Regions from separate parts of the Homo sapiens genome. Here region 1 is linked to region 2. A link means that fine-mapping ties the variant in region 2 to the plasma level of a protein whose gene starts in the linked region. Region 2 holds a variant in brackets. A gene starts in the other region. All regions are shown on their forward strands.

Region 1 (10,284 bases), not on the chromosome of region 2:
ATCCTACTCTCCCAACTGAAATAAGGAAACTGTAGGGAGAGTCAAAAAGAGCAGAAAAATAAATTGAGTACTGCAACTAGATGGAGGTGGGAAGCCAAACTGATGTTACAATTTTTCCCTCACTCCCAAATATACATATTAATATAGTCAAACACAGTGTCATCCCTTGAGGGCTGAGTGCTTCTGCTTTCTTTAAAGCAGATATTCTCAAATTCCACTCACTGGCTATTTCCAGTGGACTGTACATTCTTATTGCTTGTAGAGCAATAGTGCCCATGTTTAGGTTTGACCTTAAAAAATGTTTTTGCAAGAACCTATAACTTGTTCATACTTTTTTATTTTTAAAGTATACCTATTCATTTGTCTTTTTCAAAAGCTGGTGAATTTTCTTTGTAAAGATATGGGTAAGCTTGAAGTACTTTGTCCAGCATAAATGGGTCATAAACTGGCAGGGCAGAGGACCCCTACACTATGTGCAATTTTTATGCTTATAGTATGGAAGCATGTTTGGTAACAAAACTAAACTTTAATAATACACTGCTTAGCCCCATATAAAAATACCCCCTGGTAATAAAAATACTGTAACTGTGTAATAATCAATGCTATATTATCTTCTCAAGTTTATTTTGTATTAAAGAGATCATATATTTTTAAAAATTTTTAAAACGCCTCAACAGCTTCACGATGTGAGACCTGTTCCTGTAGTGTGTACCATTAAACCTCTAAAGTCCAGAATTGTACCTAACACTGGGTAGGAATCCAGCATACCATTTGTGAGTGAAAGGATGGTAATTATTATTATCATCTTGACAGCCAGGAACAGAGGTGGGTGGGTACCTGGAATCAGAGTCAAACAATAACTAAGAGTCAAACAATAACTAACAGGAATGATGCCGGATCCGTCCATTGAGACAATAATCATTCTGAGGTTTCTGTTGCAGTCTAGGAAAAATGGAGAAGGCTAGAAGGAGTATTTTAAACTGCTCCAGAACTTTAGATTTAGAAAGAATCTTGGCAGTCAACTCCTCTTCACAGCCAGTTCATTTTTCTTCTCTAGGGTGCCATTGGAGGGCACACTCCCTGAACACTTATGAGTGAAGAAACCCTCCTTTTCACCAGCCATTGGGTTCCTTTTCAAGTTTATTTTTTTAAAATTTTCTTTATATTGAAATCTGCCTCATTTAATTCCTACCTCTGGCCCTACGTTCTGTTTTTGGCACCAGATAGATAAAACCCATACTCTATTTTACACTCATTCAAATCATTGTATTTCCCCCACCGGTGAATATATTACCAAAGTTGGTTGAGTTTCATAATGCAAACCCAAAGGGAAAATTATCTTGAATAATCATATGACAATATGTGGAAAGTTTAGGGGCTGTGTACGCCACCTCATGGTTTTGAACTGTGTGGTTAAAGACGTTGAGAGTTGACAGATTAGTCAGGGATTTTTCAAGAGTATTAATTACAAACTTTGAAATCTTGGTCAGTGAAAGTTCATTTTAGTGCATCTTGCAAATACGATCAAAGGTCTTTTCAGTACTGATTTGATGATGCTTAACCACAGTGTGTGAAGAATGAAGTTTTTCATTAGAAATTACTGGTGTAATAGAGCACATTTTCAGGGAAGATGTATTGTTGGACTATTACAATTCATGCTCTTCCCCCACCATATCCCTACCCTCTATATTCCCCATCCCCTATTTCCTCCACCTTCCTCCTTGGGACCTCACTGAAAACCTGAAATGCTCTGAAAACCTGAAATGGCGTTTTGGACTGCTGCAAGGGAAACTGTGATCTTAACAACATCAGTGCGGCTCAGACATGACCACCATGTGAGGGCAAAGGTGGGGCTGGTGTAAGTGATGTTGTTAAACCTGTAAAAATAAACCATGAAAACCTGGGGATTTACTGTGATTTGGGGAGTGAAACAAATTTACCACTGGCCGAAAACTTGAAAAATGGAGTACAATGTGTAGATCAGAAGAAAAGAAAGCCGTCCCTCTGCCCTTGTGTAGTTTTAGAAAAACAATCTTATTAGTTTGGTAGCTTTTTTTCCTGAAAATAAAAAAAAAAATACATTGGCACCTAAGCCATGGAAAATGAAATAAAAATACACCAGTGCAGCTTCCAAAACACTGACTTGCATCTCCCTCTCCTATCCGCCGGGAATGTCTTATCCCTGCCTTCCAGTGGCTGCCAGAACCAAGGGCATCCGCGGCGTTCCTTGGCATTGGCGTTAACAGCAGATGGATTTTCCGCAGCGGCCAGGCGGAAGATGCCTAGCATTGGTCCGCCGTCTCACTGTACTGAATTTCAAGAATCATGGCCTACTGCCAGCCAGGTCAGGACCGAAGGCGCTAGTCTGGGGAGACTGGAGCAGGTCTCTAGTGGTTCACCTGTTCGGAGGCTCTTCCTGTTCAGTTCCCTCTGCGCGCCAGAGGGTGGCACCCCAGGCACTCCAGAGGTGGAGAGGAGGGGACGACAGGGGAGGCAAAGAGAGAGGAGCGGAGGGAAGGACCAGGGAGGAAGGACCAAGGAGGGAGCTTTAATAAATTCTCAGACCTTGGTCTCGAGTTCCCGGCTAATTTGGGGGCAAAGCCGACCGACCCCACGTCCACGCCCACCCCCTTACGGGAAAAGCCGGGGTTTCCACTGGGCTAGGTGTCAGAGTTGGGAATGTCTAAAACAAAAAAGGCTTCCGAGGGTTATTCATGGCCAACAGTTTCCACAGGAGAATCCAAAGGGAAACTAGTTTCCGGGGCCGCTGTGTGTGCGGGTGCTTGGTGGGCTGAAAGCTGCTGTCACTAGATGGCTGTAAGTGTGCCAACATCTGACCTGTCCCATTGTGTTGTGTTTTGCAGTTGCTGGATTTGTGCGACTCGGTGAAGGATGATGCCCGGAGGGTGATCTCGACCTTTAACATTCCACACACCTACCTCCACGCACCAATCGCCGGAATCTCCAACCCGCGGGCCGCGTGGGCTTTCTACCCTGCACCGCTGCAGCCGCGGCCACGGGAAGAGGCGCGCTCCCGGCGGCCCAAGCTGGGAGCCAAGCTCTAACGGGTGTGGCGGGAAGTGTGGTGGCCCGCCAGCAGCTGCCACGACGCTCGCTCCACCGACGCCCAGAGCTGTGGCCGAGGCCGGGGGCTGGCACCCGCTGGGCCGCCACTCTCGGGGATTTTGGTGGCAAAGCGGAGGTCCCGCCGAGGCTGGCGAGGTGCGCGGCTGGCTGCTAGGAAAGAGATCCAGACGGTCGCCTGGTGCGCTGGATCCCTGTGCCCTTTCCCTGAAACCCAGCCTGGCCTGACTGCAACCTCTCCCAACTTCAGTGCCGGATCCCCTAGACAATCAGGGTGGGCTCCCCGCTGCGAGCGCGCCCCACAGCCGGGTGCCGCCAAAGGTCTCCTGCTGTTAGCGGTGACTCACATTCCCAGTGATTTAGAAAAACTGTGGTGCCGAGTGAAAGAAAAAAAAAAAAGCAAACACCCTTAGACAAAAGAAAAAAGCTCCACTCTTTCCGCGAGCGGGAAAAAAGGTTTGGTTCAGCAAGTGATGCTATTTCAGTGAATCAGACGCTCTGGGGCTCTGCAAGGAAACGCACGGACTGGGAGAAGGAAGTGGGAGCCTAGAGTTTTGCTCTCGGCAAAACAAGAACTCGGCTTGTCCTCCCAGGCCGGCGGTTTCCGTACGGCAAGACAAGGCGCGGAAAACATTTTTACCATCTGACGCTGTAGTCTGTCCTTTAGAAGAGAATAGGTGAAAAGTTTAATAAAGAAATTAAGCGATGTGGAAGTCGTTCCCGCTGCTTGCAGAGGGTGGGGAGGCGGGCCTGGGCAATTTCGGAACTAGGAGAGACCACGTCGGCAAAGCCTGTGGTCCCGAACAAGGGCCATGGATTTCCCATTTCTCAGATCCCGGCTGCCCGACTTCATTCTTGTTTCTTTCAGCACAAGCCATCCTCCCTTCTCCCTCCCTCCACGTCTCTTGGCAGAGACAGAAAGGGACACCGCTCTGCCCGCGTCCAGCGCGAAGGAGGTGACCTAAAACCCATGGGCCCTTCTCACACTGCGTTCTCTGCGCTCCGGCCCAGTTCCGGGAGGACCTCCCGACGGCGCGGGAGAAGGCTGTAAGGGCTCTTGGCCCCCGACGCGGCCTGGGTCTCGGGGGACGCATGAACCCGCCACCTCTGGCCGGCTTCCTTTTAGTGCCCCAAATAGCAGCGCTTAGCCCGTTGCTTCCCCCGACTCTTGTTTTTCAAAGTGTTCACAGGGTCGCGAGAGCGAGCGACGCGGGGGCGGCGAGGCTGCAAGGCTGCACAGGAACAGACGACAAGAAATAGGGCTTTCTTCTGCGTGGTTCTTTTCCGGTCCCTGTCTGAGTCGCCCGACCCCGCGGGGAGCGCGGAGCATTGCGGCGTGCGGCGGGCTTCGGGCTCTCAGCCCGCGCAGCAAGTTGTGTTGCTTTTCCCCGGGTGCGACGCGGGACGGCCGCGAAGAGCAAAGTTCGTCCGCGGTAGGAACTTCGAGGCCCGGTTAGGACCGATCTCCGGCCTCCGAGTCTACTTAGCCGTGTCCACGCTCGTGCCTTTTCCCTCTTGCAGCGAAATAACTGGGCGGGGCCCGACGCGCGTCCTCCAGCGACTCCGGGAACCCAAGGCCTCCTTCACCTCGCTCAAAATTCACCCGAAAATGCGCTGAGACTTTGGCATGGGGCTGCGCTGTGTCCCACTGACGTTACAGAAGCGCTTATGAATTTAAAAACTGCTCCAGGCGGCCGGACGGCGGGACAACGCCTCCTCACTTGCTCCTCTACGGCAAGGCCCCTTCCTTCTCCCTGCCGGCTGCGGTGGTGTGTAGGGTGGTCCCTTTACAGAGTTTCCTTAATCCATCTAGCCTGACCTCACCTGCGGGATGTTCCATTTCCCGATCCACCTCCCACACCCCCGCTGCAGTTGTCTAGAAGCTGGGGCTGGGGAACTGAGGCGCGGGAGGAGCAGACAGGAGGGCCGGGGTTGGGGCGCCAGCCACGCGTTGGGAGAGCAGACCCGGGTGCAGACTCAGAGGACTGGAGAGGCGGCATGGAGTTTGGTCTCCTGGGAGGTAGAGTGAGGTGCTGCGGACTCCAGGGAGGAAAGGGATGGGTGGGGAGGCGGGAGGGGAGGAGGGACGGGGTATTTTGCGCTCCCGCACCGCGGCCCGAACTCAGCTGTTCTGCCTTCACTGGCCTCAGCCAGTCGAGGGAGCTCCTACGAGGTTATCTGCGAGCCCAGCAAATCTTGGGGGTCCTAGCCAAATGCAGTGCGCAACGTTCTCTCTCACTTGGAGGCCGCCATTCACCTCGTTTTTTTTTTTCCTAAAAGGATTTTTTTTTCTGAGTGCTTTTTTCATTTCCCTATTTTACCTGCTTTGCACATGCCTCCCGCCCTCACCCGGGAGGCGGCGAAGACGCCCACTGGGACCGCGCCTGGCCGTTTTCTGGGCGCGTCCTGCCCCCACGGCCTCTGTCTCTTAGGGCGACTGGGCGCGGAAGAAAAGCTGGAGAGCCCCTGCGGGGTGGCAGGAGGAGGGTGCCTGAGTCCCGCGAGAGGCCCGGGCGAGGAAGATGCGCAGCCTGCTGATCCGCGTCCCGCCCGGCGCCAGGGACCCTCAGAGGGAGGAGAGCTCAAAGACCTCGCCCCGCGCCTTCGCGAGGACCAACCCAGTCCCCGCGCCTGCCCCAGAGCGGCTTAGAAACTCAGGGCACAGTGAGAGCGCAGGGCGCCTCCCGAGGCTTCACACCGCCGGCCGGGCCAGCGGAGGCTGTGACCGGAGCGCCCCCTCTGTGCCGCGCACGCCGCGGCCGCCGCCGGGTTGGGGTAGGTGAGCGGGAGGCTAGGGTACACTTCGGGGTGGGGGATGGGCGCGCACATGGCCGCCAGCAGGCAGAGTTACTCCGGTAAACACGCCAGGGACGGCGGCGCGCGCGGGAGGCAACCCAGCGGGGCAACCCCCGCCTTTACCTGTCCGAGCCTGCACGCGCCGGCGGCCGCGGCGCCGAGGGGGGCGGAGCTTGCCAGCCCGCGCGCCGGGGCGGGACCTAGCGGGGGCGGGGTCCGCAGTGATTGGGCGTAGGAGCGGGGCCGCCAGCCAGAGCTGGGCTGCAGGGCCGCGCAGGTTTCACTTCGCTCCGCGCAGCCGCCTGGTCTGCAGTTTGTTGGAGCTCTGCGTCCAGCGCCGCTGCCGCTGCCGCCGCCGCCGCCGCCGCCGCCGCCGCCGCCGCCGCCGCCACTACCACCACTTGATTCTTGCAGCCACCCTGCGAACCCTGCCACACTGCGATCGCATCATCGCGGTATTCGGTTCGCTGCGTTCCCGCCGCCACCGCCTCGGCGCCCTTTCTTGGCCCTTGTTCCCCCAAATGTCTGACTCTGACTCTCGGACTGAGAAACGCAAGGTAAATACCTCCAAATCCCGGGGCGCGGGCCTGGCACCGAAGGAAGACTAGCGCTGGAGCCCGAACGGCACCACCTACTGCCCGCTTCCCGTGCACGTGCGAGCGGAGACGCTTGCATCGGCGCCGCTTGTCGCCGGCGGGAGGTGGGGATCCGTGTGGATCGGGTTCCCTCTCGGGCAGGTTCTCTTTAAAGAAAAGTCGTTCACGCGGAACCTGCAGGCTCTTGGCCGAAGTGCGGCTTGGGACGGGATGCTGCGCGCGGGCCTGGTGAAGGGTCGTAGGTCCGGGCAGGAGGAGAGGCAGCGCGTGCCTTTCGGCGCCGGCCCGGGAGCTGAGGACCTGCTCGTAGTATCGGGCTGTGCGCCCAGCTGGAAAGTCTCGCCGCCGGCTCCGGCGCCCTCAGAGTAGCGGCCGCGCAGTGTGAGGGTGTTTCGTGTCTTGGTTTTTTGGGGCGCGTGGGCCTGTTGCGGAGGATTTGCGGAACTGCGGTGGTGATTTAACTGACGAGACACGGCTTTTCCTTTTACTCATTCAGGCCAAGGTTTCGGGGCCACTGCTGCGTTCGCTTTCTCAAGCGTACCTGGGGCCCCTGCTTGCTCTGCAGGAGTCCTGCGGCCTGTGCCATCCGCACGATTCCCTGGCAGCGAGAAATCTAGGTCCTCCCCTGACCACCTGGACCGCGCAGGGGACTAGTCGCGGCCGGCAGAACCTGCTCGGTCCCTGGGCCGGGCTATCTTAGCGGCTCACGCATGCCCGAGCACACCCGACCCGGTTCGCGGTGCAGGCTGGCGGCGCCGTGCCCTCTGGGACCTGTTGCCCCAGGGTTGGCGCTGCTGGTGGAGGGCCCGACGGACGCCAGGGCGGAGGGTGTGAATTTACTCGATGGTCGCGGACGTGCGCGTCCGCGGCCAGGGGTGGCTCTTCGGCTTTGACTCGTGTCTGCGGCGCACCAGGAGAGAGAGGAAGTTGTTGGAGGAGAATAGTTGCCACAGCCAGGGCGGTGACGGCCGTTAGGGTCTGCCCCCGACGGGCCAAAACAAGGACAAGTGGCGAGGACTGGGCCTGGGGATGGCCCTGCGGGTCCGGGCGCGGCGCAAGTCCTGCTTTGTCTCCAGGTGACTGGCTGTCCAGGACGGCGGGAGCTGCTAAGGCTTGTGTCCGGAAGGAGCACAGGGATGGGCAGGGTGGCCGGGCCAGCCGGCCCTCAAATCCTCCGACGAAGCGGCAGCCGCCACGACCACGGCCAGAGCAGCGCTCGGAGGCGAGTTTGTCAACAATCGCCTCGCCTTTGGCGGCCTGACCCGTAGGCGCCGCCCCCACCGCGGCTGCCGATTGGCTGCGGCGCGGAGCGACCGCGCGCGGACCAATTGGGAACGCGGGCACCCGGCGCCAGCGGCGCGGGGAGGTCGGCGGTGCCGGCGGCGGCGGGCGCAGAGCGCGAGGGGAGGAGCGGGAGGAGGCGGAGGATGTTCCCGGCGGCTGCGGCCGGGGCAGCGCGGGCCAGAGGCGCGGCGTGCGGAGCCCTCGGCTGCCCGGCGGAGCGCGGCGGCGGGCTGGCGGGAAGGCGCGGGCTTTGCGCTGCGCCGGGGACTCTGAACCCGAGTCCCGGGCTTTGTCTCCTGCGCTGCTTTCGTGGTGACGGTCAGGGGGCGCCCGGTCGGCGAAGGGCGCGGGCCGGACGCCGCGGGGCTTGGTCCCTGGCCCGGACGCTGCGCTCTGAAGGGAAGGCGCGGACGTGAGTTTCGGTGTGATTGCCTTCTGAGGGGAGGGTCTGTGGGATGAAGGCGGCGCGGCGCGCACCGGTGTCGCCTAGCCTGCGGACCTAGTTGTAGACCTTGCAGGCGTTCGCTTCGTCGCCCTCCGCCGCCCCCTCCCCATTTAGAGATGTGCACCTCACGGTGTGCACCTCAGAGAAGTTCTGTCTGATTCGGTGCGGCGTGCGGTACGGGAGCGGGAGGGAGGGAGCACGGGCGGAGAGAGCGCCAGAGCCGGGCCGAGCCGCGCTGGAGTTACAAACTCTATTGTGACGCACTTACTACGACTGACGGCCGCTGCCAGACCTTCCCCAGACTTGCTGCCCTCAGCATTTTCGGCAAACAATGGGGCCGGAGCAGGGAACGCGGCCAGCCGCCTGCAATCGCTGCATCTGCGCCCGCTCCTGTGCTCCGGCGTCCTACCTAACCCCGGGAAGTCAGAGCCGCTGGGAGTTTCTGACTTACTCGAAGAAGTCTGTCCTGGGCAAAGAGCACACACGAATAGACTTCAGATTAGCTGCTTCTCTGGAAACGCATGTGTGTGTGCACCAGTTCCGCAAGCTGTTGACATTGTTACTGTATTTTGTTTGGGGGTACCCTCTACCAAAAAAAAATTACACCTTTATTATTTTAGGTGCAATTTTTTTATTTGGGAGATTGTCAGAAAAGTATAGAACAAAGTATTTGGGATTAACCCTAAGAATTTTTAATCGCTAGGTGAGAGCTAATTTGTTTATTCATCGATTTTTTTTTTTGCTTAAAATAATCTTAGTTTTTATTTTACTTGCAGAAAAAAAGACCAAATGGCAAAGCAACCTTCTGATGTAAGTTCTGAGTGTGACCGAGAAGGTAGACAATTGCAGCCTGCGGAGAGGCCTCCCCAGCTCAGACCTGGGGCCCCTACCTCCCTACAGACAGAGCCACAAGGTAATCCTGAAGGCAATCACGGAGGTGAAGGGGACAGCTGCCCCCACGGCAGCCCTCAGGGCCCGCTGGCCCCACCTGCCAGCCCTGGCCCTTTTGCTACCAGATCCCCGCTTTTCATCTTTATGAGAAGATCCTCCCTGCTGTCTCGATCCTCCAGTGGGTATTTCTCTTTTGACACAGACAGGAGCCCAGCACCCATGAGTTGTGACAAATCAACACAAACCCCAAGTCCTCCTTGCCAGGCCTTCAACCACTATCTCAGTGCAATGGGTAAGCAATGCCTGGGTAAGAGGCAGTTGACGTGTGGATGGTTGAATCTGCTTGAAGGCTGTGTGTGGCATTTAAAATCCCCTTTTAAAACCCCGTAACTGATTTATTCCATCTTTAGATGGGAATGGAGGATGTGTCAAACTATCAAACCAACTTTTTTTTTTTTTTTTGAGATGAGTCTTGCTCTGTCGCCCAGGCTGGAGTGCAGTGGTGCAATCTCAGCTCACCGCAAGCTCCACCTCCCGGGTTCAAGCAATTCTCCTACCTCAGCCTCCAGAGTAGCTGGGACTACAGGCGCGTGCCACCACGCCCAGCTAATTTTTTCTATTTTTGGTAGAGATGGGGTTTCACCGTGTTAGCCAGGATGGTCTCAATCTCCTGACCTTGTAATCTGCCTGTCTCAGCCTCCCAAAGTGCTGGGATTACAGGCGTGAGCCACCGCGCATGGCCCACATCAACATTTTTACAAAGTTACTAACTTTTGTGGCAGTGATGAGTTGAGGTCCAAACATTAGCTTTCAGGTCTGTCTTCATTAAGCTAAAGTGTGTTTTAACCACCAGGCTTTACATAGTAATGACATTTTGCTTGAAAGGGAACTGATCATTTACAGAAAATAGCTTAATAATCAAAAGTGTAAAGAAAGATGACAATCATTTTTGAAAATAACACTTTTAAAAAAATGAACTAGTTCATGAAAGCAGTACCAACATAGAACCATGAAAATGGTTTGTTTTCTGCCTAAATTCCTCTTTGTGCTTATTGCTCAGAGGGTTTGGACATAGTACTAATCAGATTAGGTTGTAGGTTTTTATTTCAGGGATTAAAGGCAGTAGTAGGGTTTGAACCAAGAGTGGCTAACATAAATACCACAGAGGCCCACAGCAAAATCATGGAA
Region 2 (10,523 bases):
ACTATGATTTAATACTAAATAATTTGGTTGAGAAATTGGGCCACAAAATATTTAATGGAAGATAGTGTTGAGTAGTGATTAAAACTGTTGCTAGAGATTAAAATAATTTTTTTTTCTTTTTGAGACAGAGTCTCACTCTGTCACCCAGGCTGGAGTGCAGTGGCATGACCTCAGCTCACTGCAACCTCCGCCTCCTGGGTTCAGGTAACTCCCCTGCCTCAGCCTGTCAAATAGCTGTCAAATTACAGGTGTGCATCACAAAGCCCATCTAATTTTTATATTTTTAGTAGAGGTGGGGTTTCACCACGTTGGTCAGATTGGTCTTGAACAGCTGGCCTTAAGTGATCCACCCGCCTCAGCCTCCCAAAGTGCTGGAATTGCAGGCATGAACCACCACGCCCAGCCTAAAATAATTTCTTAATATTAAAAATAGTAAGAGAACAATAAAAACCCCAAATAATTTTTCTAATTACAAAATTTAATCCACATAATTTCTATAGTAGTACTAACTCAGTATTTCACCAATTCAAGATTTGGCAGGACAATAAGGCATATTTAAAAACATTTTAAGTTTTTCTTCCTATTCCTGTTAGATTATTAGATATTACAACTTGAGCCCTTGAATTACTAGTGAATTTAACAGCTGTTGGACAATAAAACTCAAATAAATACATAAATAAATAAAAATTATAGGCCAGGCATGGTGGCTCATGCCTGTAATCCCAGCACTTTGGGAGGCCGAGGCAGGTGGATCACCTGAGGTCGGGAGTTCGAGACCAGCCTGACCAACATGGAGAAACCCCATCTCTACTAAAAATATAAAATTAGCCAGGCGTGGAGGTGGGCAACTGTAATCCCAGCTACTCAGGAGGCTGAGGCAGGAGAATTGCTTGAATCCAGGAGGCGGAGGTTGTGGTGAGCCGAGATCGTGCCACTGCACTCCAGCCTGGGCAACAAGAGCGAAACTCCATCTCAAAAAAAAAAAATAAAGAAAATTATAGCTTGCTTATTTCTTCCCCCACTTAGAAAAGGAAATGGGACCAACCGATAGCCAAATATTTTAAATATGCATGCCAAGCTTTAATGCCAAACGTGTACTTTTTTGTATGTAACTCTCTAAGTTGGTCAATTAAAATTTCAAGATTCTCCCTTAACATTTCTTAAAGATAAATGATTTATTATGCAAATATTTTTAAGCGTTTACTTTGTACTAATTAATTTTTCAGGTGGTGGCTGGCAAGAAATATTTTATTGACTTCGTGGCCAGGGAAACCACATGTTCCAAGGAAAGTAATGAAGAGTTGACCGAAAGCTGTGAGACCAAAAAACTTGGCGTGAGTAGTCATGCACCTGTCTACTTTTTCACTGGAAGCCTATTTGATGTTTTTAGAATCATTTGTTTAAATGTCTCGTGAATAACACTGTCTCTCTTTCGACTTCTGTTTTCATGGATAGCAAAGCCTAGATTGCAACGCTGAAGTTTATGTGGTACCCTGGGAGAAAAAAATTTACCCTACTGTCAACTGTCAACCACTGGGAATGGTATGATTCTAATTACAGTCAGCGTGGGGTCAGTTCTGCTCATTCTGAAAATCCATATTTGGGGGCTGAAAATGAACCATTACTGAAATGAATTGGGGAGCTATCTTTTTTAAATGGGGAGTAACTCTCACACTTCTGTGCTGATCTCTGTTTAATGGCTAGAAAGAAGAGTAACAATCCTCCTGATCACTTCTCACACATTGTCAGTGTCTCAGTGAAGCTTCTATAGACTCTCTCCTAGTGCACTGCAGTCCTGCTGTGGGGGAGCAACATTGGCTATGCCAGGTGTACCTGAGGCCAGATACAGCACTCCACTGCATTCTGCTGACATGCAAGGACCATGTGAAAAATGCATGGCTGGGCGCGGTGGCTCACGCCTGTTATCCCAGCACTTTGGGAGGCTGAAGCAGGCAGATCACCTGAGGTCAGGAGTTTGAGACTAGCCTGGCCAACATGGTGAAACCCTGTCTCTACTGAAAATACAACAATTAGCTGGGTGTGGTGGCGCCTGTAATCCCAGCTACTCAGGGGGCTGAGGCAGGAGAATCCCTTGAACCCAGGAGGTGGAGGTTGCAGTGAGCCGAGATCCTGCCACTGCACTCCAGCCTGGGCAACAAAGAGCGAAACTTTGTCTCAAAAAAAAAAAAAGAAAAGAAAAATTCAGACTCGCAAACCCCACTTCACAGCTACCGAATTTTAACCAGATCCCCAGGGGATTCATATGCATGAATCAAGTTTGAAAAGCATTCGTTGATGTCATCTTTCTTTTTTAAGTCTTAAAAGAACTCTGGGAGGTAGTAACACTTTCCCTATTGTCAAGGATGAGACACTAAAAATTAGAAAGACTCTGAGGTCCTGAGTGAATAATGACATTATCAAATGCTTCCTCTGTCCCAGGCACTATACTGAAGGTTTCACCCACATTTTCGAGTCCTCCTTATAACTCTGTGAGGCAGGTGCTGTTATTATTTCTATTTTACAGAAAGGAAAAGTGAAGCTGATGGCACTTGGATTCAAATCTTGGTCAATTCAGAGTCTACCCTTTCCATCACGATGCTGATTACCAGTAGGGTCTGGCCGGACTCCAATGACCATGTTCTTTGCATCACCAGACACTGCTTCCAATTAACACATTCTCACAGGTAGCAAAAGTGTAGGTAGAATTAATCCACAGATCGACATATTTGAAGCAGGTTACCTCTTTTCCCTCTTTTCTGATTTGGTCTTTTGTCATGTGTAGGTATGTAGATGGTGTAACACAAACATTGTCCTCAGGTTGCATTTCAAGCTTGCGAATATGTCCTAATGTGCTTCAGCACAACAAAGTGATCATGGATACATGCTCCCTATATATTCAGTTCATAAAGCCACTTAGGGCCTTTTAGGATAAAAGCAGTGATGGTGGTAATAACAGTAGTATCAATAATTAAATACTGTGCTCAGTAAAAACATAGGCTCAGAAGCTACCCTAGAGATTAGCTAGTTCAACCATCCAGATGAAGCAAAAACACTCCAGCTTATTTTACAGTTTTTTTTGTTGTTGTTTGGCTGGGTTTTTTTGTTTTTTTTTTGTTGTTGTTGTTGTTTGTTTTTTGTTTTTTTTGACAGAGTCACTGTCGCCTAGGCTGGAGTGCAGTGGCGCCATCTCAGCTCACTGCAACCTCCACGTCCTGGGTTCAAGCAATTCTCCTGCCTCAGCCTCCTGAGTAGCTGGGATTACAGGCATGTGCCACCATGCCCAGCTAATTTTTGTATTTTTAGTAGAGATGGGGTTTCAGCATGTTGGCCAGGCTGGTCTCAAACTCCTGACCTCAAGTGATCTGCTCGCCTTGGTCTCCCAAAGTGCTGAGATTACAGGTGTGAGCCACCATGCCTGGCTATTTTATGGTATTATTAACAACAATAATTAATGTCCACAAATTTTAAGATCAATCAAAAGACAAAAAAAATTATTCATCCTTTCTGGAATGTTAATATAGCATTTAAAATCTGGCAAACACCTCCCCCATTGTAAACTAAGATAACATTGCCAGATCTCAGTGTTTTTTTCTATCATCAATAGCATGATTTTTGCAGTAATACATTCATCTTAATATTTTCTGTTTAGATCTCACTGATGAAAAGGCCTCCAGGTTTTTCACCTTTCCGATCATCACGAATAGGGGAAATAAAAGAAGAAACAACTGTAAGTCCACCCCACACTTCCATGGCACCTGCACAAGATGAAGAGCGGGATTCAGGAAAAGAACAAGGGCATACTCGTAGACATGACTGGGGCCATGAAAAACAAAGAAAACATAATCTTGGCCATGGCCATAAACATGAACGTGACCAAGGGCATGGGCACCAAAGAGGACATGGCCTTGGCCATGGACACGAACAACAGCATGGTCTTGGTCATGGACATAAGTTCAAACTTGATGATGATCTTGAACACCAAGGGGGCCATGTCCTTGACCATGGACATAAGCATAAGCATGGTCATGGCCACGGAAAACATAAAAATAAAGGCAAAAAGAATGGAAAGCACAATGGTTGGAAAACAGAGCATTTGGCAAGCTCTTCTGAAGACAGTACTACACCTTCTGCACAGACACAAGAGAAGACAGAAGGGCCAACACCCATCCCTTCCCTAGCCAAGCCAGGTGTAACAGTTACCTTTTCTGACTTTCAGGACTCTGATCTCATTGCAACTATGATGCCTCCTATATCACCAGCTCCCATACAGAGTGATGACGATTGGATCCCTGATATCCAGATAGACCCAAATGGCCTTTCATTTAACCCAATATCAGATTTTCCAGACACGACCTCCCCAAAATGTCCTGGACGCCCCTGGAAGTCAGTTAGTGAAATTAATCCAACCACACAAATGAAAGAATCTTATTATTTCGATCTCACTGATGGCCTTTCTTAATTTAAGTGGCTATGGGTATTTCTTTCATACTTTATTAAAGTATCAATATCCCTCTCTCCATTGTCCAGATGAAAATATCCTGATATAATGCACCAAAAACCATGCAGCTTCGGAACAGTCTAAAGAGAAGTGGTGAGACTCCCAGTGGAGACACCATCAGTCTCCACGGACTGCATAAAATTGTGTGCCACAATTCTAACTCTTTTCTGAATCTTCTTCCCAAGTTTTCTAAACTAGCACAGTAAACAGACAAACTAATGTGCCGTATGGCCTGCTGCAATTGGCTTCTCTGATAACAAATATGTACCTTACAACATATGTCATGAATTTGCATACAAAGATTCTTGTCATTCTTAATAAACTGTGGCACTTGGTATTTGAATGTGTGTGAAAATAAGGGAAGTCAAGAGATTAAATGCTGAACTTATTAATGGAATAGAAATAATAAGGAGGCTGAGGCTGGAGAATTGCTTGAACCCGGGAGGCGGAGGTTGCAGTGAGCCGAGATCGTGCCACTGCGCTCCAGCCTGGGCATCAGAGCAAGATTCTGTCTCAGAAAAAAAGAAAAAAAAAGAAATAATAAGAAAAACTTCCAGATTTCAAAGTAACAAGAAAGAAGACAGGTTGGCCAAAGGGAGGAAAGGGGGGACATAAATTAATTGACTTTCTATTCCCAAAATGGGCTAGTTATATCAAATAAATACTCCCACTGCCCTTTCTGAGTGAGAGTGTTTCTCATAAGTCAAAAATTTCTGTTTACTCATTAACTACTCTTTGCAACAGGCTTTCATATAGAAGTATTCTGTTTATTTTTGCTGAGCCTAGATTGAGTAATTCTTAGTTTACAGAAGCTCCGAGCTTAATGATAAGGATGAAAAGCAGAGGGAGCAATATAGAAGCAGGCTTGCTAATAAAACTTTTTAAATAATTGACAAGGGAATATTATGGAATGTGATGCAAAGTTTGTTCCGAAATTTTATGAGGAAATTACTCTCTAGTCTCACTTTATAGTCTTTTTGCTATGACTTTGAAGACCATTGATTTTTGAGAAGCAGAATAATAGGATTGCCTTTCATTGCCCTATAGTGCAAAGAAGGTATATGCTTTATAACCAATGTTGTACTTTTGCCTAGAAAAACAAGATATGGCTTTAAATAGCTACAATCATCTTTGGATGTATATGTCACTGCTGCTTCAAGTTATTGGATGCATTTGAACCTCTGAGTTTGTCTTTCATTTTAAATATTGTCTGTTCTTTTAAATAAACAACCACAGATGTCAGGAAAAAGTCTTACCTTGTCAACTGGTTGCTCCACTTTTTAAAAATGATTGAATGATAACATCATATTAACTGCGTTTTACTATACTTACAGAGTCACCTAAGGTCCTGCGAGTACAAGGGT[C/T]GACCCCCAAAGGCAGGGGCAGAGCCAGCATCTGAGAGGGAGGTCTCTTGACCAATGGGCAGAATCTTCACTCCAGGCACATAGCCCCAACCACCTCTGCCAGCAACCTTGAGAGGAAGGACAAGAAGAAAGATGGGATAGAATTTAAATAGAGAAGAATGCCATTTTATCACTCTGCCTCTGGGTGAAATAAAGATCAGTCTTGATGTTCTAACTCTAATTCACAGTGGTCTCCTTTCAGCCCTACCCATTCTGCAGCAAATTCCAGCTGGTCAGAGAGTCAGTGCTGTGGCTCTGCCATGGAGGCTCATAACCCAACACTGGAACATTCCCTAGCCAAGGCAGAAGTCCTTAGGCGGGACTTCCTTACCACCACGGGTGCTAAAAGAAGAGTTAGTAGGTCATGCTTCTACCAGTAATCTAAGGACTCTCTCCTTCTCTTCTTCCTCTTTCTCCAGATTTCCAAGCCTTAGCTAAGAGTAATTTGGCTTGTTTAGTATTGTTTTCTTATGGTCCAGTTAATTACCAAAAATATTTTTAAAATCATCTCTGTTAATAGAATGTCTACCAACTTCTCACTATCAGAAAATACTCAACCTCCAAACAATTTGAAATTATCTTTCTGATCCAGGTAAAGAAGCAAATTGAAAATCAATAAAGTAAAAAGTGACGGAGATTTTAAATTTTCTGTAATAAAAACACTTATTGGGTTGGGCATGGTGGCTCACGCCTGTAATCCCAGCACTTTGGGAGGCCGAGGTGGGTGGATGACCTGGCGTCAGGAGTTCGAGACCAGCCTGGCCACATGGCGAAACTCCATGTCTAATAAAAATACAAAATTAGCCGGGCGTGGTGGCACGCACCTGTAATCCCAGCTACTCCAGAGGCTGAGGCAGGAGAATCACTTGAGCCTGAGAGGTGGAGGTTGCAGTGAGCTGAGATTGCACCACTGCATTCCAGGCTGGGTGACAAAATGAAATTCAGTCTCAAAAGAAAAAAAACATTTATCGAACACCTATTACAGCCATTTGCTATGCTAGATAATTTACTTTTGGCATATAACTTAATCCTCACAACCACTCTAAGGCCCCCATGAACATCATTCTTTTACAAGGAAACTGTAGTTCACAGTGCCCTGCCCAGGGTCATATAGTTAATAAGTGGCAGGGCTGGCATTCAGACTTAGACCTTTTGAACTCCATTACACCATGTCATCTGAAGGCTTTATTATTAATGTTGTCATTACAAAAGACACACCAAGTCACTGACTACAGTCACAGAGACCCAATAAATTAAAAAAAAAAAAAGGCATGCCAAGACAATGTCTGACTCTGAGAGGATCCTTGTCTCAATCCAAAATATCCTTATTAAATACCTAATTGTGGCTGGTGCTGTTCTGTGTATTGGTCAGGATAAACTGAGTTAAGCAGCAGTCACTAACTATTTACCATATGCTTCGCATGAGGTCCTGAGAGGAAAAGAAAGAAATTTTAAAAGACATAAATCCTTTCCCTCAAAGATCTTGCAATCCCATTGGCAAGTCAAGATGAAAGCATACGGAACAAAGATTTGATCCAGGCTGCAGTCTTTTGTGCAACAGTGAGTGAATGCAACCAATGTGACTGGAAGAAGTTGACTAGGTAGAGGGATCAGCTGTGAAAGGTAGTATGAAGCCCAGCTGGGAGTCTAGGCTGAAATATGCAGTAGAGTTCCTTCTACAGTCTTTGCCATACTCAGAGGGAGTTTGAGATAGATGATTCTGAAGGTTCTGGGTAGGGTGGATCAGAATGGGAAGAGAATGGAGTCAGGGTTCTGTTCTGGGTATTTCCTGACAATCATGTTTTAGCAGAAAAATAAGGGCTGATATATAAAGCCTATACCTCTCAGCTTACTCAACAACATGAAGTATTTCCACTTCAGGCCTTTGTTAGGTAACATAAACATGAGTTTCCCGTGACCCAGAAACTAACTTTCTTATTTTTTAAATATCTATACCAGCCGGGCGCAGTGGCTTCACGTCTGTAATCCCAGCACTTTGGGAGGCCAAGGCAGGCGGATCACTTGAGGTCAGGAGTGCGAGACCAGCCTGGCCAACATGGCGAAACCCCGTCTCTACTAAAAAATAATTAAAAAAAAAATTAGCTTGGTGTGGCGGTGGGAGCCTGTAATCCCAGCTACTGGGGAGGCTGAGACACGAGAATCGCTTGAACCCGGGAGGTGGAGATTGCAGGGAGCCGAGATCATGCCACTGCACTCCAGCCTGGGCAACAGAGTAAGACTCTGCCTCAAATAAAAAAAAAAAAAAAAAAAAAAAAGACCTAACTACCAAGCCAAAGTCACACCCCAAGTGTCTGGCCCTGGCTCTGGGGCCACACAGCTACATCGCTCCGTGCTTCTCTTCAGGGCAGGCATTTCCTGTCGTCGAGTCCAACGCACATTCCTCACATTGTCTACGCCTAGTTCCTCAAACAGGAGGCCCCTATTGGCTTTTTACTCCACTCTCCACTTCCTGCTTCTAAGCCTGGTTCCAAAGGAGTTAACTCACAGAAAGACACATGCTTTTCGGCCTCACCCCAGTCTGTCTGGCGCCCATGCTCCCCTTCTGCTCATACTCTGTACATTCACCTCGCGGGAAAGCCCAGACTCCCAAGGCTCCTCTGAGAAGATTTGAGAGGATCCAGCAGCTATATTTTAAAACTCACTCTTCCAGAAGCCCAGTGTCTCTCTCTCTATATTAAGATAGATGATCAAAAGCCAAAATGCCACTTCAACATCTTGCAAAAATGCTATGTTAAATTATTTAAGGTTGGCTGGGTGTAGTGGCTCACACCTGTAATCCCAGCACTTTGGGAGGCTGAGGCGGGTGGATCTCCTGAGCTTGGGAGTTCGAGACCAGCCTGACTAACATGGAGAAACCTCGTCTCTGCTAAAAATATAAAATTATCCGAGTGTGGTGGCACATGCCTGTAATCCCAGCTACTCGGAGGCTGAGGCAGGAGAATTGCTTGAACCCGGGAGGCAGAGATTGCGGTGAGCCAAGATCGCACCATTGCGCTCCAGCCTGGACAACAAGAGTGATACTCCATCTCAAAAAACAACAACAAAAAATTATTTAAGTTATACTTTCATCTTTTATTTCATAAGAATTTCCATTTGAACACCATTCTGTCTTTTGCAAAACTTTGAGGTATTGCCCAGTGTATCACATTTGAGGCAGTATAGTGAGGTGGTTAAAAACCAGAGTTCTGTAGTTACAGCCTGAGTCTAAAAACTGCCAATTTGCTTAACTTCCCAGTTTAAATTCTCAAAGTCCCAGTTTCCCCATGCAAAATATTACTTTAATAATGTACTTACCTCATGGGGTGTTATGAGAATTAAAAGAGATAAATTCTTGGCCAGGCACGGTGGCTCACGCCTGTAATCCCAGCATTTTGGCAGGCCGAGGCAGGCGGATCATCTGAGGTCAGGTGTTCGAAACCAGCCTGGCCAACATGGCAAAATCCCGACTTTACCAAAAAATACAAAAAGTAGCTGGGTGTGTGGTGGCGGATGCCTGTAATCCCAGCTACTCGGGAGGCTGAGTCAGGAGAATTGCTTCAAGCTGGGAGGTGGAGCAATTCATACAAAGTACATACAACATACAAAGTAAGAATAGGGCCGGGCATGGTGGCTCATGCCTGTAATCCCAGCACTTTGGGAGGCTGAGGCGGCTGGATCACTTGAGGTCAGGAGTTCGAGACCAGCCTAGCCAACATGGCAAAACCCCGTCTCTGCTAAAAAGCACAAAAATTAGCCAGGCATGGTGACAGGCACCTGTAATCCCAGCTACTTGGGAGGCTGAGGCAAGAGAATCGCTTGAACCCGGGAGGCGGAGGTTGCAGTGAGCCAAGGTCGTGCCAGTGCACTCCAGCCTGGATGACAGAGCAAGACTCCATCTCAAAAAAAAAAAAAAAAGAAAAAGAAAAAGAAAAAGAAAAGCTGCAGTGAGAGATGGATGCAGGGATGCCGAAGGGTTCCAGCCTGTTCTCCCTCGCCCCTCCTTGGCACTCAACATTTCCTCCACTGCTGGCCGTGCTAACCTATAGCCATAGTACACCTAACAGGGCAAGAGTCTTCCAAAGATTTCTCCACTAACTCCCCTGTGCAGTCCCTTGGCAGCTATATGTACCTGTCCAGTTTTCCCTAAAAGCTCTGACTTGTCCAGGAGCACCAATGCTTTTGGAAGGCTAATGAATAACCTTCTTCAGATCCTCCAACTCCCTTTCCCTGGACCTTATTTTCCTAGCTCCTCCCACAATGGCATTAGATTTAGATAAATCTCCTATGCCATAGGATTCACAGTGGTTCTGCTTCCTTGATGAAACCTTGACTGATGCACCAGCCTTTTTTTTCACCCTATCAATTTGTTACCAAAACACCAAGGGTTAGGTCTAGGCTCTGCTGCTTGCCACACAGAAAGCCAATCACTGACACGAGTGTTGCCAGTTAAGAAGGCTTTAATTGGGTGCTGCAGCCAAGGAGATGGGAGATCAGTCTCAAATCCATCTCCCTGACTGGCTAAAATTAGGGGATTATATAGCAGGGAAGAAATGTAACTACATACAGGAAAACAGGAATTAGGGAGGGGTAAGGAAGAGGAGCTGTTCAACAGGAAGCAGGTA

Direction of the effects. Alleles are on the strand shown, and positions count from the first base shown. The strength of an association depends on the size of the effect and on how common the allele is.
With allele T in place of C in region 2, the plasma level of the protein whose gene starts at base 6,163 in region 1 is lower (weak association).

The links. A credible set is the group of variants that fine-mapping cannot tell apart. PIP is the posterior inclusion probability: the model's chance that the variant is causal. Protein levels are from antibody-based Olink assays in UK Biobank. Linkage for the fine-mapping came from a reference panel and not from the study's own genotypes, which makes the PIPs less certain.
Region 1: BCL2L11 starts here. The variant in region 2 is the best candidate, but not a certain one, in a credible set for the plasma level of the BCL2L11 protein (UK Biobank, PIP 0.73).

The regions. Positions count from the first base shown.
Region 1 is chr2:111,114,752-111,125,035 of GRCh38, forward strand. BCL2L11 (BCL2 like 11) reads left to right here and starts at 6,163. Exons shown (of 4, transcript NM_138621.5): 1 at 6,163-6,437; 2 at 8,982-9,388. The coding sequence starts at 8,995. ACOXL (acyl-CoA oxidase like) reads left to right here. Exons shown (of 18, transcript NM_001142807.4): 18 at 2,865-3,797. The coding sequence ends at 3,065. It overlaps ACOXL-AS1 (ACOXL antisense RNA 1), which reads right to left and starts at 837. Exons shown (of 4, transcript NR_122074.1): 1 at 769-837. RefSeq lists enhancers at 5,368-5,447, 6,598-6,717 and silencers at 5,728-6,267, 6,601-6,895, 7,688-8,247.
Region 2 is chr3:186,737,873-186,748,395 of GRCh38, forward strand. It overlaps KNG1 (kininogen 1), which reads left to right. Exons shown (of 10, transcript NM_001102416.3): 8 at 1,227-1,334; 9 at 1,456-1,542; 10 at 3,650-6,538. The coding sequence ends at 4,459. Among named protein-coding and RNA genes, the nearest start is that of KNG1, 26 kb to the left of the region's middle. The variant C/T (reference allele first, on the strand shown) is at 5,863.